2 separate regions of the Homo sapiens genome follow, and region 2 is linked to region 1. Evidence: fine-mapped expression QTL. A gene starts in region 1. The other region holds a variant in brackets. All regions are shown on one strand. Distances are between the middles of the regions. Region 1 holds the start of LINC02918 (long intergenic non-protein coding RNA 2918). Region 2 holds the start of MIR6079 (microRNA 6079).

Evidence for each region. PIP is the estimated chance that this variant, and not a neighbour inherited with it, causes the effect.
Region 2: its variant is fine-mapped to the expression of LINC02918 in spinal cord (GTEx, PIP above 0.99).

What each region holds. Positions count from the first base shown.
Region 1 is chr1:43,936,819-43,947,079 of GRCh38, reverse strand. LINC02918 (long intergenic non-protein coding RNA 2918) reads left to right here and starts at 6,539. Exons shown (of 2, transcript XR_947283.2): 1 at 6,539-6,850; 2 at 8,287-9,184. ARTN (artemin) reads right to left here. Exons shown (of 5, transcript NM_057091.3): 5 at 9,840-10,261. LOC101929609 (a long non-coding RNA gene) reads left to right here and starts at 481. Exons shown (of 2, transcript NR_188535.1): 1 at 481-599; 2 at 2,284-2,725. IPO13 (importin 13) reads right to left here and starts at 130. Exons shown (of 20, transcript NM_014652.4): 1 at 1-130. RefSeq lists silencers at 85-334, 10,255-10,261.
Region 2 is chr1:43,836,798-43,844,797 of GRCh38, reverse strand. ST3GAL3 (ST3 beta-galactoside alpha-2,3-sialyltransferase 3) reads right to left here. Exons shown (of 12, transcript NM_006279.5): 5 at 6,487-6,579. It overlaps MIR6079 (microRNA 6079), which reads right to left and starts at 6,176; the gene lies at 6,115-6,176. RefSeq lists enhancers at 2,139-3,127, 3,128-4,116. The variant C/T (reference allele first, on the strand shown) is at 4,677.

The DNA of each region.
Region 1 (10,261 bases):
GGCGAAGAGTCCGTGGAGTTGAGGGGCTGTGGCAGGTCCCTTCCGTTCGGCCTGGCCCGCGCTGTGCTCAACGCCCGGCTACAGCCCCGCTACAGCCGCTGCCTCCGCCCCAGTGACTGACAAGACAAGCCAGGCCGGCCGGGACGGGGCAGGGACCTCGGCAAGGCGCGGGCTGCCCCGAGCGCCTGTCCCCGGCACCTCCAACTCAGGCCCCCACTCCTGCCAGTTCTGGCTCGGCACGGCCCGGTACAGGCCGGCACGGCCCAGCGGAACTGCGCGGAAACTCATTCCGGGTCCTTAGCCCTGTCCTCGCGCCAGCTCGCACTCCCCTGAGCAGGCGGTGGAGCGGCTCGCCGCCCCAGGCCGCGGCCGAGTCTAGGCCCCGCCGCTGTTCACCCTGGGAAATGTAGTCCGTGTTGCGCCTAGCCGGAAGGCGGCGCCCTGCGGAGGAGGCCGGGAGCACGTGGGTTGGGGACCTGCAGAGCCCCGCCTGTCCTCGGCCTACCGCGGCGAGCAGGCATTCCGGGTCAGACCGGCGCGGGGCGCTGCGGCCCAACTCCTTAGTAGGACGACGTGACTCGAGGGGCCGGAGGACGGAGGTGGGAGCCCGGGCTAGAGGGTGGAGGCTGGGGAGGTTGCCTGGTCACTCTGGCGCTCCGCTGCCGGGGGCATCCTCCGGCCCAGCAAAGGTGCAGCCTGGGAAGAAGGCGTCAGCACCACCCAGAGAAGAGGAGAGGGGACTTGGCACGCCTCAGGAAGGAAAAAAGGAAGGCTCTCGGGACCACCCAATAAGCAACCGGGAAACCACATACCATGGACAGTGCTCGGGGAATTTCGTAAGGTTTTTGGAAGTAACTTTATGTGTAACTAGAGTAAGAGTAGCTTACATTTAAGTGCTAGGAGCAGGACTTTGCTTACCTTAGGTTCAGTTTTCTTAATAGCTCTGAGGTGGATATTTTTATTCATCATTTTCAGATGAGATGAGGAAATCGAGCTTGGGGAAAGTTAGGCTTATCTTGCCCCTGGCACACAGACAGGGTGGCAGACCATGCCATAGATCTGGTCTGCCACAGGCCCCGGTAGTTCCTGCCTGTCACCCCTCCAGTTGTATTTTATTGTTTATTAACTCCTGCCAGCTACCCTAGCAGGGAAGAGGAAAAAATTAAAAGTGCAAAGAGCTCCGTAGTTTTGTTCAAATGGAGGAAGCTGGCATTGGAAGCTGGCATTGGCAGCAGCTGCTGAGGCCTGAGAAGGTCCATGAAGGCTTCCCTGAGAAGAGAAACTTGATCTGAGCTTGAAGAATAGAGAGCCTGGGAAGGAGAGGGGCCCATTTAGCTGGTAAGCAAAATCCAGTAGGACTCTAAGTCATTCAGCAAGTCTTCATCAATAAAGAATAGCAAGTAGGCCGGGCGCGGTGGCTCACGCCTGTAATCCCAGCACTATGGGAGGCTGAGGCGGGCGGATCACGAGGTCAGGAGATCGAGACCATCCTGGCTAACACGGTGAAACCCCGTCTCTACTAAAAATACAAAAAATTAGCCGGGCATGGTGGCAGGCACCTGTAGTCCCAGCTATTCGGGAGGCTGAGGCAGGAGAATGGCTTGAACACGGGAGGTGGAGCTTGCAGTGAGCTGAGATCACGCCACTGCACTCCAGCCTGGGCGACAGAGTGAGACTCCGTCTAAAAAAAAAAAAGAAAAGAAAAGAAAGAATAGTAAGTAATTTATATTCATTTTAAGAGAATATATGTGGGGTGGGGAAGGGGAAGGGTATGAGTAACAGAGATGAGGTTGGAAAGACAAGTTGGTGGCAATAGATTCTTGTAGGAGTTTGGACATTATCCTAAGTGCAATATGAAACCATGATGGGGTTTCAAGTGAGCAATGATGATTACATTTGCATTTTAGAAAAATCTGCAACATGAAAGACAAATTGAAGGAAGAAAGAGAGGCAGGAGACATTTGGAAGGAGGAAATAGAAAGCCAAAATAAAGTAACTGATTCCAGGCCTGTGCCTAGGGTGTGAAATACCTTGGGCCTGGTGCTGGCTGGCGGTTTCACTGGTGGAGGTGGTGGTGGGCAGGGGAGATGGTGTTGGGAGTGGGGTTTAAATGCACAAATTCTGGACTTAGTCCTGAGTTCAAAACCTGTTTATGCCTCTTTCTAGCAATGAGACCTTAGCTTCTTCTGAAACTCATTTTAGTTAAGGGGTTTTAGGGGTGGGGGGCTCAGCCCAGAGACCACAACTTAGTCAGTATGTGTTTTCTTCCTGCTTCCCATCCAGGGCTCCTCCTCATCCCTGGAGGTTCCAGGGATCTGGCAGAGAAAGAAGCCCAGTCTCACAGCAATGACTCCTGAACATCCTTTGCAAACACTATTTAGGACAGATGGACTGAAGTAGGCCCTGGGGAGAGTTGGGGGCATTTCCGGAGGCCAGACCAAAGGTGATCTCCAGGAGATTTGGATGTTAGTGCAGGATAGCTCAGAGCCAAGTGGCAGATAAGTCTTTGGGAGCCAGAAGGGCTCTTTCTTCTCTAAGGAACAAGTGTAGACCTATAGGGGCAAGAACCTGTGGCAACCCTGGGAGAGGTCTGCAGATTCAGGAGGGAACATCCCAAAACTCAGCAGAGGAGGAGAGGGAGCTTTTGTTGGTCACCTGGAACCACTACCAATCCATGTTCATGTCAAATTAAATGATCACTTTGAAGTTTTTCAGCCTACCAAAATCATGTGAATTTGGTCTGCAAAACCAGACGACTGCCTGCTTGCAGTTAAGAATTCTCAGCGGGAGGCCGGGCGCAGTGGCTCATGCCACCAGCACTTTGGGAGGCTGAGGTGGGTGGATCACGAGGTCAGGAGTTCGAGACCAGCCTGGCTAACACGGTGAAACCCTGTCTCTACTAAAAATACAAAAGTTAGCCTGGTGTGGTGGCGGGCACCTGTAGTCCCGGCTACTTGGGAAGCTGAGGCAGGAGAATCTCTTGGACCTGGAAGGTGGAGGTTGCAGTGAGCTGAGATCGCGCCATTGCACTCCAGCCTGGGCAACAGAGCGAGACTCTGTCTCAAAAAAAAAAAAAAAAGAAGAAGAAGAAAAAAAAGAATTCTCAGGGGGAGATTATTCCCCTTTCTTAGTACCAAGGTTGGATGTAGGCAGTTTTCTTTGTAGTCCCCTGGTTTGAGGGAGAGAGGTTAGGTCAGACAGGGGCAGGTTTCTTTCTAATTCACCTTCACAGTGTAGGCATACACTGGCCTTTGAGGTCCTGGCCTTATGGAGAAGTTTCTAAATAGACTCCCCATGGTGAGGGGGCCCTGGGCTTTGTCTTTCTCATAAGCCCAGAGACCCCTTGAAAACCAATGATCAGGTTCTCTGGGTTCGGCAACTGCCCTCAAGATGAAAGCCAATGACAGAGCTTTGCTTACCTTTGTAGCTTCTTGCTTTCATTTACTTTTTTGGCCTCAGTGTGTTTCTTACATTTTTGCTAGCTTATGGATGCATTTAATTTTAAAGATAGATAGAGTCTAGTATTTAAAGTTGTTTTCAGGAGGAAGTTTAGCCCAAGTCCTTAGGCCACCATGTTGCAAGAAAACCTAACGGGCAGTTTTCGGTTCTGATGCAGCTTGATTTTTGTGCTGCATCTGGCCCTATTGACCAGTCCCTCAGCTCTTCTGTTTGGTTTTGTTTTTCCCGACACTCTGACTACTCCTTTTTGGTTTCCTTCACTGGCCCATCCCTGTTCCTCCACCTGTTCCTTAAATGTTGGTCCTCCTTAGTCTCCGCTTCTTGTCTTATGCCTCATTATCTCACCACTCCCCTGGCTTCAAGCTGTGACTCCTTGGATTTCTCCAGCCCAGACTGTCCTGGGTTTCAAACCTGCATATTTAGCTGCCTCCTGGCCCTCTGAAGTTGCCACAGGCACCCAAAGTTGAACATGTACAAAACTGAACTCACATTTTCCCCACATCTTACCCCTATCACATGCTAAAATACTACATCCCCTGTGTTCTGTACCAGTCCCCCAAGCTAGACACCTGGAAACCATCTCTCATCCAGCCCTCACCTCTCTTATTGTCCCTCACATCTCTTCTGTCCTTGCACATTTGCTTCTGCCCTAACTCAAGGTACCTGTGCTTGTTGCCTGAACGGCTCTAACTATGGCAGCTCTAGCTGGCACCCACCTTGCCTCTTCCATCCATACTAGACACAGTAGCAAGTGATCCATCTGAAACACATCTCTAACCAAGCCCACTTAAAACCCTTTAGTGGCTCCTTTCAGAGCGAAGGCTGAGCTTCTCGGTATAACATTCAAAGCCCTTTGTGACCTCTCCAGTCTTTTGTCTTGATGAGGACCCTCCCCAAGTCCACCTGAAGTTGCTGGCAATCCTGGGAGCGCACCAGGCTGTTTCACACTTCCCTGTCTTTGTTCATGCTACTTCCTCTGTTGAGAAGGCTCTGTGTCATTCTGGATGCCATCAGGAGAGAGACATCACACAGTCAGCAGGCAGGGAAAGTTCAACATAAGCATTTTGAAGTGTAACAGGGAATTGAAGCTGTGATGAACTGGCTAGTAAGAAGTAAATAAATAAATAAATAAACAAATAAAAATCTAAAGAATATAGGACTAGCAGAGTCTTCAGGCTGAGATGGAGAGCCCAAGGAAGAGGCCCTCACCTCTCCACTCCATTCCTGTCCAGGGCTGAGAACCACACCGTGCAGGACAGGACATGGCCACAATGAACAGTGTACATTTAGAAGTGAGAGGAAATAAAGGCAATCAGCAATAACCAGTTCGGGTTCCATGCCTCTCATCCACCCTATAATCCACCCTGTGCAAACAAACTCATTTTTCAAGACTCAGTTCAAATACCACCTTTTCCACAAAGACTTTTCCTCTTCTGCGTCTATCCAGGAAAAAACTGATTCCTCTTCCTTTGTGATTGTAGAATCTGCCCCCTCCTTGACACACATACCTATAACCTCAGTCATACTTCTACTGGGGTACTTGTTTACCCCTACCTAGGGTTGCCAGAAAAAAATCAGGACACTTATTTATTTTTTTTTTTTTTGAGATGGAGTCTTGCTCTGTCACCCAGGCTAGAGTTCAGTGTCACGGCTCACTGCAACCTCTGCCTCCCAGGTTCAAGCAATTCTTCTGCCTCCTGAGTAACTGGGACTACAGGTGTGCACCACCATCCCCGGCTAATTTTGTATTTTTAGTAGAGACAGGGTTTCACCATATTGGCCAGGCTGGTCTCAAACTCTTGACCTCGTGATCCGCCCACCTCGGCCTCCCAAAGTGCTGGGATTACAGGCATGAGCCACCGCACCTGGCCATCTATTTAATTTTGAATATGAGATAAACAACAATTTTTTTTTTTTTGAGATGGAGTCTCACTCTGTCGCCTAGGCTGGAGTGCAGTGGCACGATCTCAGCTCACTGCAAGCTCTGCCTCCCAGGTTCACACCATTCTCCTGAGTAGCTGGGACTACAGGCGCCCACCACCACGCCCAGCTAATTTTTTGTATTTTTAGTAGAGACAGGGTTTCACCATGTTAGCCAGGATGGTCTCGATCTTCTGACCTCGTGATCTGCCCTCCTCGGCCTCCTAAAGTGCTGGGATTACAGGCGTGAGCCACTGCTCCCAGCCTTTTTTTTTTTTTTTTTTTTTTTTTGAGATAGAGTCTTATTCTGTCACCCAGGTTGGAGTGCAGTGGTACGATTTTGGGCTCAAGCAATCCTTCCACCTCAGCCTCCCAAGTAGCTGGACCACAGATGCACGTCACCACACCTGGCTAAGTTTTTGTATTTTTGGTAGAGACAGGGTTTCACTATGTTGCCCAGGCTGGTCTTGAATTCCTGAGCGCTAGCGATCCACCTGTTTCAGCCTCCCAAAGTGCTGGGATTACAGGGGTGAGCCACCACGCCCAGCCAATTTTTTTGTATAAGTATGTCTCAATTATTGCATTGGACATACTGAAAACAAGTATTTAGGCCAGGCATGGTGACTCGCACCTGTAATCCGAGCACTTTGGGAGGCCAATGTGGGAGGATCTCTTGAACTCAGGAGTTCGAGACCAGCCTGGGTAACATAGCAAGAGCCCATCTCTACCAAAAAAATAAAAATTAAAAAAATTTAAAAATTAGCCAGTCGTGGTAGAATGCACCTGTAGTCTTAGCTAGTTAGGAGGCTAAGGTGAGAGGATCGCTTGAGCCCAGGAGGTGGAGGTTGCAGTGAACTGAGATCACACCACTGCACTCCAGCCCGAGGGACACAGCAAGACCCTATCTAAAAAAAAAAAAGGTGTATTTATTGTTTACCTTAAATCCATTTTTTTTTTTGAGACAGAGTCTCACTTTGTCGCCAGGCTAGAGTGCAGTGGCACAATCTTGGCTCACTGCAACCTCTGCCTCCCGGGTTCAAGCGATTCTCCTGCCTCAGCCTCCCAAGTAGCTGGGACTACAGGTGCGTGCCACCACGCCCAGCTAATTTTTATATTTTTAGTAGAGACCGGGTTTTACCATGTTGGCTAGGGTGGTCTCACTCTCTTGACCTCATGATCCGCCCACCTCAGCCTCCCAAAGTGCTGGGATTACAGGCATGAGTCACCACGCAGGGCCTGAAATCCAAATTTAACAGGATGTCTTTTACTTTTATTTGCTACCCTACCCCTACTTCCATCTCCAAGTATAGTTTCCTTGATGGCAAAACATGTTTCTCACTGGTCTCTGAATCCCTGAAACTAGCCCAGTGCACGACAGTTCATGCTCGGTTAATATGAAGAGAAGGCAACTTATCTGGCTGCAGCGCTGAGAATGGTTGGAGGGAGTTGTGACTGGAGACAGTGAGACCAGGTAGGAGGATGAGGAATAAACCATCCAAAAAATTATGAAGGCTTCAGCAGAATAGCACTGGGGATAGGGAAAGGGGATGGATCTGCAGGATCTAAGGATTTGGTGACCAATGCTTAAGGGACATGACAGAGCTTAAGGAGCCTAGGAGATTGCCCAAGTTTCTGGCTGTGTCACTGGATGAGGTTGGTGCACTCACTGAGCAGGGAACACTGGGGAGGGTCTGGAAGCTGGACAGCAGGGAAGCTCATTGATGTGAGGAGCAGAGCAGGCTGGAGAAGGGTGGACAGCAGATCTGAAGGAGGAAACGGAAGACATCCAGTATGGATATGTTAAGCTTGATGTCTCCCAGGATATACAGATAGAGGTATTGGAATTACAGACTTGGGGCTCAGGTGAATGTTCTAGGCTGGAGATAAAATGTGAGCATGGTTAGCATGGAGGTGGTAACTGAAACCACGGGAGTAGACAGTGCTGCTCAGGGAGAGAGTAGAATGGGAAGAGGAGAGAGAGTCGGTATCAGAGCTCTGAGGAACATGAGAGGCAGAGAGAGGAAGAGGAACTCAGAAGTCGTCTGAGAACAAGCCTCTGGAGGAGTGGAAGGAGAACCCGGAGAGTATTGGACCAAGAGAGTCACGGGAAGACAGGTTTTCAAGGAGGACTGACACTATCGAATGCTTCTGAGACTTCAAAGGACTAAATGGCCTTTGGCTTTAGTATTGACCAGAGTCACCTGTGGCCCCAGGAGCTACAATGTGCCACCTGGTGACAGGTTATAGCTACTATGTGGTAAACAGAGGTACAGCTCTGCAGCCTGTTTCCTTTGGGGAAAACAACCTTTTCTTTCTTGCTTGCTTCTTGCTTTCTCTCTCTCTTTCCCCTTCCTTCCTTCCCTCTCTCCCTCCCTCCCCCTCCCTCCCTCCCCTCCTTCCCTCCCTCCCCTCCCTCCCTCCCTCCCCTCCTTCCTTCCCTCCCCTCCTTCCCTCCTTCACTGTCTTCCTTTTGATTTGGGTTGTCCTGAGTTGCAAACTGAGGCTAATTCATATGGGAATGTGTTCTTGGAGCTGTTGCTGTCTTGTTCCGGACTCTGAGATGTTGAGCACAAGCTGTCTGGGGCCCAGAATGCAGCCTCCAGCTGGGGTGAGCCCTGTTCCCTCAAAAGCTGGCAGCCTGGGGAATGTTGACAGCCAGCACCTTTGGCTTGGGCTGTGGCCCTCTCACTGTGAGCATTGTCAGAGATGGCTTCAGTCAGTCTCCTTTACTGGCTCTGGAGCAGCCGTGTCTACTGAGTGGCAGGGTTTGGGGACTAGGCTAGGCTTTAAAGTCTCACTAGCAGGGGGCTGCCTGGCCCCAATAACCCTGGAATTGACAGAATGTCCTTCTCTGCCTGCAGCCAGCCCTCTGTAAACTGTATGGCCCTGGGGCCATTTTCTTTGCAGGAGGGAAGGTGGAACTAAGGATCCCGAATCCGTTTGGAGGCAGAGAGGGGCCAACAGGGTGTTTGAAGGGAGCAAAGGCATCGAAATTTTTGGAGCATCTAGAACTGGGGCAGTGAATGCAGAAGAGTGGGAGCACACACACGTTTCTCCTCCTTGACCCAGAATGGGCACAGCCTTCAGAGAGCTCTTGCCAGCTCCTCACTCTAGCCTGGGTGAAGGGGGCATCTGTGCCAAAGCAGGAAGGCACACAGGCGGATTGGAAGGAATTTCTCTCAGCAGCGTCAAATGCCTGAGGGATCTCGCCCTCGACCCTCTCCATCTCTCATGGTACTCTCATTCACCCCCGGCTGCAGCTCCTGCCTCTGTGCTGACAGCTGTCACATCAATCCAGCCCAGACCTCCCTCGGCAGCTCTAGACCAGCAGATCCCACTGCCTCCTGACAACCCCTCTGGATGTCCCACAGTTCCTCAGACTTAGCATCCTTTCCAAATCCATGCCCCCATCTCATTTCCAAAAAAGAAAAATCATAGAGGCCTCCCCAATACAAATGCATAGGACATGGGAAACAAGGTTTGAAAGGATATCCAGAAAAGCTTAGGGATAGCCCTGGCCTTTTGGAGGTGACTTGGGGGTGGTATGAGAGGCCAGAGTCAGCAGTAACTTCTCCTTTCTTCCCCACGAAGGTGTGGACTTCTTAGCTTCCTGTCCTTTTCGTACCATTTGCCAAATTGAATTTAAATAATTATTACTGTAATTGCTTACTTATTGTCTGTCTCTCCTGGTTGAAGCTTCTCAAGGGCAGGGATCATGTCTGTTTCACTTCTGTATCCTTGGCATCTGTCATATAATCAGTATCTGACATATAATAGGTGCTTAATAAATATTTGTTTGAATTAATGAATATCCTTGTTCATCACCCAAGATGCAGATCCTGCTGGGGCCCTTATCTTTTCCTGCCTCCTTATCCACATGGAGCTCTGTGCTTTGCTCACCGGAGCCAGCACCCCACCGCACCCTCTACCAACCCTCGGTTTTTTTCAGATGCCCTCATGCCCTGGGCTGCTTCATGGAATGTGGATAGTGAGTTAACCATGCTGGCCTGTCTGCAAGCAGAGGCATGTGTATATCTGACAAGGCACCCTCAAGACAATTCCCTGGATGGTAAGACACTGATCAATGACAGTGGGGTGGGGCAATGGGTGCTTCTCTGTGTCTTTACCCACTAAGCGGGGGCCACAAAGATGCCAGAGGTCACAGAGACAGGGCTTTCTCCACAGAAGCCTCTGTAGTCTCTTTCCCCAGAGGTAAGCCCAGGCCCAAGTGAGCAGCCTGCCAGGACTAGTGACTGCACCCTTGCTGCCCGCCCTGCCCCTGCCTGTGTTCCATGCCTCCCATCCCGGAGCTGCTGGGTGGGGGCCGAAGATCCAGGCCAGGTCTGTGATTGCTGAGTCAGCCTGAGGTGTGTGAGTGCGATCAGCAAGGCATGATCTCCATCCAGCCTCTTCTTCCCAACCCCCTGCTGCCCAGGAAAGGATCTGACAAGCCACAGAAGTAAATAAATAACTTAGAAATAATAAATAGGGGCCAGCTCCCATGAGTGAGTACAGGCCAGTTCCAGCACAGGCACTTTCAACCAAGCAACTGCAATATGTGTCCTTCAAATGCTGTCCCTACAGGGCCTGGGCGGGGGCTGATGCCTCAGCCACTGTAGTGTTCATCAGAGGAGGGGTCCCAGGTTCGAGGCCTGGCCAGTGCCAGAGTCTGTGAGAAGTGGGTCCGAAGGGCTCCATAGCTGAGGTCTCTGGTGTCTTTTAGGCTGGGATCCGCAGGGTGAGGGCTCTGGGGCTGCTAGTCAGTTGTCCCTTCACCTGTTCGGGGATGATATCCATCACCCACCGGCAGGGGCCTCTCAGCTTTGAGGCCTTCGTCCCTGGCTGAGGCCGCTGGCTAGTGGGACTCTGCGGGAGGGTCCCA
Region 2 (8,000 bases), 100 kb after region 1:
TGGAGTGCAGTGGCACGATCTTGGCTCACTGCAAGCTCTGCCTCCCGGGTTCACGCCATTCTCCTGCCTCAGCCTCCAGAGTAGCTGGGACTACAGGCGCCCGCCACCGTAGTGCCCGCCACCACGCCCGGCTAATTTTTTTTTATTTTTGGTAGAGACGGGGTTTCACCGTGTTAGCCAGAATGGTCTTGATCTCCTGACCTCATGATCCACCCTCCTCGGCCTCCCAAAGTGCTGCGATTACAGGCGTAAGCCACCGTGCCCGGCCACCAATAGTTAGTCTAGTCTCTGACCCTAGTTTCTGACCCAGAGCTCTTAAGACCTTTGTAATTTCCTGACTGATAAGAGCACATCTGACAGAGAGCTGCTAAATTCCTTCAAATTTCCTGGGTGATAGGAATATCTTTTGTTCTCATGAGATGACTTCTGGATAGCCTTATGTTGGGTGCTGGTTGGCAGGGGAACCAACTATGCAATTAGAGGGCTGGAACTTTCAGTCTCACCCTCTGACCTCGGGGATGGGAAAAGGGCTGAAGGTTGATTTGATCACCAGTGGTCAATGATGCAATGAATCATGCCTATGTAATCCTCCACAGGGTTTATAGAAGCCTCCATAAAAACCCAAAAGGACAAGGTTCAGAGAGCTTTCAGACTTGTGAACCACTTACCACATGCCATGCCCTATGCATCTCTTCCAACTGGCTGTTCATCCGTATCCTTTATGATATCCTTTATAATAAATGGATAAACATAAGTTTCCCTGAATTCTGTGAGCTGCTCTAGCAAACAGATCAAACCCAAGAGGGGATGGTCTTGGAATTCACAACTTATAGCTGGTTGGCGAGATGTATAGGTAACAACCTACTACTTGTGATTAGCATCTGAAGTGAGGTATAGTCTTGTTCGGCCGTCAACCTGTGGGATCTGACGCCATCTCCAGGTGGATAATGCCAGAATTGAATTGAATTATAGGACACCCATTAGTGTCTGCTGAAGAATTGCTTGATGTGTGAGAAAAACTGCCACACATCTGGTGTCAGAAGTGTGTTCAGTGGCGCATGAGAATAGAGATAAAAAACTGTCTTTTCTTCAGACAAGCCTAGATTTTGCTGGTGAATTCTATCAAACATTTCATAAAAAATATTACCAATTGTACACAAAATTTGTAGAAAGATGAAGAAATATTTTCCCACTTATTCTGAAGCCAGCATTACTATATTACCAAAACTAAAGACATCACAAGAAAACTACAGACCAGTATCTTTCATGACCAAAGACACAAAAATCCTTGAAAAATTTTAGCCAATTGAATAGAGCAATGTGTAAAAAGAACAATACACCAAGACCAAATGAAGTTTATCCTACAAATGAAAGATTGGTTCAACATTCAAAAATCAATTAATGAGAAAAAACCAATCAATGTAATTCATCATATTAATAGACTAAAAAAGAAAAGCCATATGATCTTCTCAAAATATGCAGAAAAAGCATTTGACAAAATTCAACATCTATTCATGATAAACACTCTCAAGAAACTAGGAACAGAAGAGAACTTCCTCTACCTAAAAAATGGTATCTATGAAAAACCTACAGCTAACACCATAATGGTGAAAGACTAGATCTTTTCCTCCTAAGACTGGGAACAGGCAAGGCTGTTCACTCTCACCTCACCTATTTAATACTGCACTGAACAGTCTAGCCAATGCAGTAAGGCAAGAAAAAGGAATGAGACATATAGATGAAAAAGGAAGAAATAAAACTGTCTTTAGTAACAGACGACAAGACTGTCCATGTATGAATGGTACTGGCACAAAGTCATAAATCAACAGAATAGACTAGGGAGTCCAGAAGGAGACCTACACATACATGTTCAACTGATTTTCAACAAACATGCCAAGGTAATTCAATGGAGAAAGCAGAGTCTTTAACAAATGGTTCTGGAACAACTGAACATCCATGTGCAAAAAGTGAATGTAAACTTTTTTTTTTTTTTTTTTTTTGAGATGGAGTCTTGCTTTGTGTAGAGTGCAGTGGCGTGATCTCGGCTCATTACAACCTTCGCCTCCCAAGTTAAAGCGATTCTCCTGCCTCAGCCTCCCAAGTAGATGGGACTACAGGTGTACACCACCACGCCCAGCTAATTTTTTGTATTTTTAGTAGAGACGGGGTTTCACCATGTCAGCCAGGATGGTCTTGATCCCCTGACCTCGTGATCCGCCCGCCTCATCCTCCCAAAGTGCTGGGATTACAGGTGTGAGCCACCATGCCCGGCCTCTAAAAAAAATATCTGAGACTGGGTAAATTATAAAGAAAAGAGGTTTAATTGGCTCACAGTTCTGCAGGAAGAGTGGTGCTGGCATCTGCTTACCTCCTAGGGAGGCATCAGAAAGCTTACAATCATGGCAGAAGGCAAATGGAGAGCTCAGATTTTTTTTTTGTAGCAATGCAAGAATGGCCTAATACATAAAATTGGTACCAGGAGTAGGGTATTGTTAGAAAGATATCTAAAAATGTGGAAGTGACTTCGGAACCGGGTAATGGATAGAGGTTGGAAGAGTTTGGAGGGCTCACAAGAAGACAGGAAGATGAGAGCAAGTTTGGAACTTCTTAGAGACTGGTTAAATGGTTGTAACCAAAATGTTGATAGGGATATGGCCAATGAAATCTAGGCCAACAAGGTCTCAGATTGAAATGAGGAACTCATTGGGAAATGGAGCAAAGGTCATAACATGTTATGCCTTAGCAAACAGCTTGGTTGCATTGTGCCCTTTCCCAAGGAATCTGTGGAAGTTTGAAGTTGAGAGTGATGATTGCATATTTGGCAGAAGAAATTTCTAAGCAGCAAAGCATTCAAGATATGACTGGCTGCTCCTAACAGCTTACACTCAGATACAGGTGCAAGTAAATGACTTAAAGTTGGAATTTATATTTAAAAGGGAAGCAGAGCATAAAAATTGGGAAAATTTGCAGCCAAGCCACATGGCAAAGAAAGAAAAAGCTTTTTCAGAAGAGGAATTCAAGCAGGCTGTGGAGTAACCACTTGCTAGAGACATTTGCATAACTAAAAAAGAGCCAAATGCTAATATCTAAGACAATAGGGAAAAAGCCTCAAAGGCATTTTAGAGATTATTGAGGTAGCCCCTTCCATCATAGTTCCTGAGGCCCAGGAGACAAAAATGGTTTCATGGGTCAGGCCCAGGGCCTCACCCCTATGCAACTTCAGGACACTGCTCCCCACATTCTGGCGGCTCCAGCTCTAGCCATGTCTCAAAAAGGGCAAGGTACAGCTCAGGCTGCCACTTTGAAGAATGCAAGCTGTAAACTTTGACAGCTTCCATGTGGTATTAAGAGTGCACAGAGTGCAAGAATGGAGGATTCTTGGATGCTTCCACCTAGATTTCAGAGGATGTATGGAAAAGCTTGGCTTCCCAAGCAAAAGCCTGCTGCAGGAGTGGAGCCCTCACAGAAAACCTCTACTAGGGCAGTGTGGAGGGGAAACATGGGATTGGAGCCTTCACACAGGGTCCCCACTGGGACACTGCCTTGTGGAGCTGTGAGAAGGGGGCCACCATCCTCTAGTCCCCAGAATGGTAGATCCACCAGCAGTTTACACCCTGCACCTGAAAAAGCCTCAGGCACTCAACGCCAGCCCATGAGAGCAGCCACAGGGGCTGCACCCTGCAAAGCCACAGGGGCGGAGCTGCCCAAGATCTTGGGGGCCCACTTCTTGCACCAGTGTGCCCTGAATGTGGGGCACAGAGTCAAAAGAGATAATTTTGGAGCTTTAAGATTTAATGACTGCCTTGCTGGGTTTCAAACTTGCATGGGGCGTATAGCCCCTTTCTTATGGCTGATTACCCCTTTTTGGAATGGGATGTTTACCCAATGCCTATACCCCCATTGTATCTCGAAAGTAAGCAACTTGTTTTGATTTTACAGTCTCATAGGTGAAAGGAACTCATTTCCAGATAAGAATTTAGATTTGGGACTTAGTATCAGGGGACCTGCCCTGATAATCACGTAGGTTCTTTTCTATTTTTCCTAAGCGTCGGCCAGCTTGAGAAATAAAGGGACGGAGTACAAAAGAGAGAAATTTTAAAGCTGGGCATCCGGGGGAGACATCACACGTTGGTAGGATCCGTGATGCCCCACAAGCCACAAAAACCAGCAAGTTTTTATTAGGGATTTTCAAAAGGGGAGGGAGTGTGCAAATAGGTGTGGGTGACAGACATCAGGTACTTAACAGGGTAATAGAATATCACAAGGCAAGTGGAAGCAGGGCGAGATCACAGGACCACAGTAGGACTTTTGAGTTAATGCTAGAATGAGTTAAGATTTCGCAGGGACTATTGAGAAGGGATGACTGTATGTTGAAATGTGAGAAGGACATAAGATTTGTGGAGGCCAGGGACAAAATGATACAGTTTGAATATTTGTCCCTGCCCAAATCTGATGTTGAAAGGTAATCCCCAGACAGGCTCAGTGGCTCAAACTTGTAATCCCAGCACTTTGGGAGGCCAAGGTGGGTGGATCGCTTGAGCCCAGGAATTTGAGACCAGCCTGGGCAACATGGCAAAACCCCACCTCTACCAGAAATACAAAAATTAGCCACGTGTGGTTGCATGCGCCTGGAGTCCCAACTACTTGGGAGGCTGAGGTGGCTAATTGCTTGAGCC[C/T]GGAGGTCAAGGCTGCAGTGAGCCAAGATCGCACCACTGCACTCCAGCCTGGGCAACACCGCAAGACCCTGTCTCAAAAAAAAAAAAAAAAGGAAGGGAAAAAAATGTAATCTCCAATGGGGCCTGGTGGTAGGTGACTGGATCATGGCGGTGGTCTCTCATGAATGACTTAGCACCATCCCCCTGGTGCTGTTCTTGTGAAAATGAGTGAATTCTTGTGAGATCTGGTTGTTTAAAAGTGCGTAGCACTTCCTCTCTTTCTCTCTCCTTCACTCACTTGCTCCTGCTTTTGCCATATGACGTGCCTGCTCCCCCTTTGCTTTCTGGCATGATTTTAAGTTTCCTGAGGCCTTCCTAGAAGTGAAGCAGGTGCCAGCACCATACTTCCTGTAAAGCCTGATGAACCATAAGCCAATTAAACCTCTTTTCTTTACAATTTGCCCAGTCTCAGATGTTTTTTCATAGACATGCAAGAACGGCCTAATACACAGTACAGAATATTAAATACAGTTATGTTCCCACTTTTGGTAATATTGGCTGTCTCTGGGGAAGGAGTCTGGAGTGGCAGTATATAACCTTTTGTACTGTTTGAGGTTTTTTTGTTTTGTTTTGTTTCCACATGCCTGTATTACTTTCAATTAGAAAAAGCAAACGAAACCTATATACTGGTAAAGGAAAACTCACAAGTGTCTGGGCTAAGGACTGAGTCGTATAGGCTTGCAAAAACCTGTGTTAAGAATACAGAACACAAAAAGCCAGACACAGGGGCACTCAATAAATAGCTGGAGGAAGCAAAATATTTGGAATCAATTCAGAAGGCAGACCCTGGACAAAGAGATCTCTATCTGAGCACCAGATACTCAGCCAGCATAGCCCTTGCTTTACACAAGGAGCTAAGCTGAGACTGCTCACGTTAGAAAAGAAAGGGAGCATAAAAACCAAATATACCGGAGTCACTTTGGGGCGAGCTGTTTCTCAGCATTCCTTTGCAAGCACATTACGTGTCCTAACCTCAGCCTTCTAAGGGATGGGAGGCAAGTCCTTCCCCCAGTGAGCAGAGCCCACCCCTAGCACTCCTCTGGTGGTCCAAGTGCCCAGACAATCCTAGGCAGCCTTTCCTTCAGCCCCTCCAAATCAGAAGGAACGAAATGACCCTGACAGTCTCACTGCACTCCAAAGACAATCTCAGCACTTCAGCTCCTTTTCCACACCAAGGCTTCAGAAAAGAAAACCAAAAAGGAGAAGGTGGATCAGTAAGCAAGACCCCTTAGCAGCATTCGGTAAAAGGAACTCCCTGGGTTATGCACAGATTCTTTCAGGTGCCAAAGAAGTCAGCAGCTCCAGAATGCAAAATGGACAGAGAAGGAAAGTGCTAAAACTCAAGACAGCCTCAGAAATTTCTCTTTGTTCCCTGCTTTATTTGGATATGCCTCCCTGAAGCCAGCTAGTTGGTCCAAGCTTCCAAAAAAGTTTCTTTGGCCACTGATACTAGGTCTAGGAGCTTCTGTGCTTGGCAGCCTTCTCTGGCTGCCTCTGGATACCTGGCTTGCATGCGGCAACCATGTAGGTTATCCTTCTGCAGAAACAGGCTGTGCCACAAGGTGCAAGCTCCAGAGGCAGGATGGGAGTAAGGCAAAGCAACGGCATGGAGTAGGACTGGAGTAGGAACCAACTTAAAGGCAGAGTCCTTTCCAGGAACCCATGGTTTCCAGAGCATAGGAGAACATGACTGGCTGTGAGAGGCAGAGTTTCTGGCTCTTGGACCCCAGACCAGGCTGTCTAGGCAGTGGAGGGAAACAGGAGCACTTACCGGGGGAAGATGGCCGTCATCAAGGCTGAAGCATAGCCAGGCTTGCAAGCTCCCTCTGAAAAGTTTGCGTACTTGGTGGCTAATTCAGCAGGCCTATGGGAAGAGAAGGAAAGTTACAGCTTGCCAGGCACTGAGCACTGAGTGGGTTATTAATTCATAAGGAGCTGTAGGTGTTTAACCCTTTTTTTTTTTTTTTTGAGACGGAGTCTCGTTCTGTTGCCCAGGCTGGAGTGCAGTGGCGCAATCTCGGCTCACTGCAAGCTCCGCCTCCCGGGTTCACGCCATTCTCCTGCCTCAGCCTCCCGAGTGGCTGGGATAAGGTGTTTAAACCTTGAATCAAGTTTCATTCCCTACAATCAGCACTTCAGGCACTTTTCCACATTAAGGCTTTAAGGGTAAAAACAAAACAAATCCCCAACCCTAAAGGAATAGATAGATAAATAAGTCAGGCCCCTGGATGGTATCTGTAAAAGGAACTTAACTGGATTCTCACAGATTTCTTTTTAAGAGACAGGGTTTCATTATGTTGCCCAGGCAGGTCTTAAACTCCTGAGTTCAAGCGATCCTCTCGCCTTGGCCTCCCAAAGTGTTGGGATTACAGGCATTGAGCCACTGTGCCCAGCTCAAACTCATAATTCTTTGCAGGAAGCCTGAAACCAAGGAAACGAGGAGCTCTATCAAGGCTCCAATACCCGGGGGAGTGGTGCTTGGAGTTCATAGAATACAGCTACTCAGGCTTTGATACTCAGAGCCCCTGGCCTTTCCACCTTCCTTGTATGTTCCTACATGGCCAGCCTCATCTGCTTTTATTCTCTCCACTCAGGCTATGATCCATCCAGTGGGAACCATTCCCCAGTAGTGGGAACTGTCCCGAACAGTGACCGAATATAGACACGATAAATTATGTCACTGGGGCTACTGACATAACCATTAGACTTTTAGTTGAGGATGGTTTCCTCTCTCTGCCTGGAATGTTATTCCTTGTCCTTCTTCATCTGGCTAACAACTATTGGTCCTTCATGATTAAGCTTAAATATCAGCTTCACTGGGAGTGATTCCCTGACCCTCGGATTGGGCTAAGTGCCTCCTCTGTGCTTGTATAGTCACTCCCCCTTCCCCTCACATCATATACTTACCCCCAGCACTTGCTATTCTGTATTGTAATTTTTGGTAGTATGTCTCCCTTGATACACTGTAAATTCCTAAGGTCAGAGGCTGATTTAACCCTGCCTACCCTCTCCAGTGCCTTGCATAAATGGGCACAAAGAAGACCCCTAAAACTTTCTTAAGGAACAAAATGACCCTGACAGTCTCACGGCAGACAAGGCAATCTCAAGGAACCCACAAGGCTGAGACTGCTACATATTTTTCAGAAGACTTGTGTTCTAATCCTGGCCTGTTGCTGTGTGACCATAATCATGCCACCTCACATCTTTGGGTTTCAACGTCTTATGCGTTCAATGTGGGTCTGGAGTCACTGCCCTGCCACCAAAATCTCTGCACTATGCAGTCTA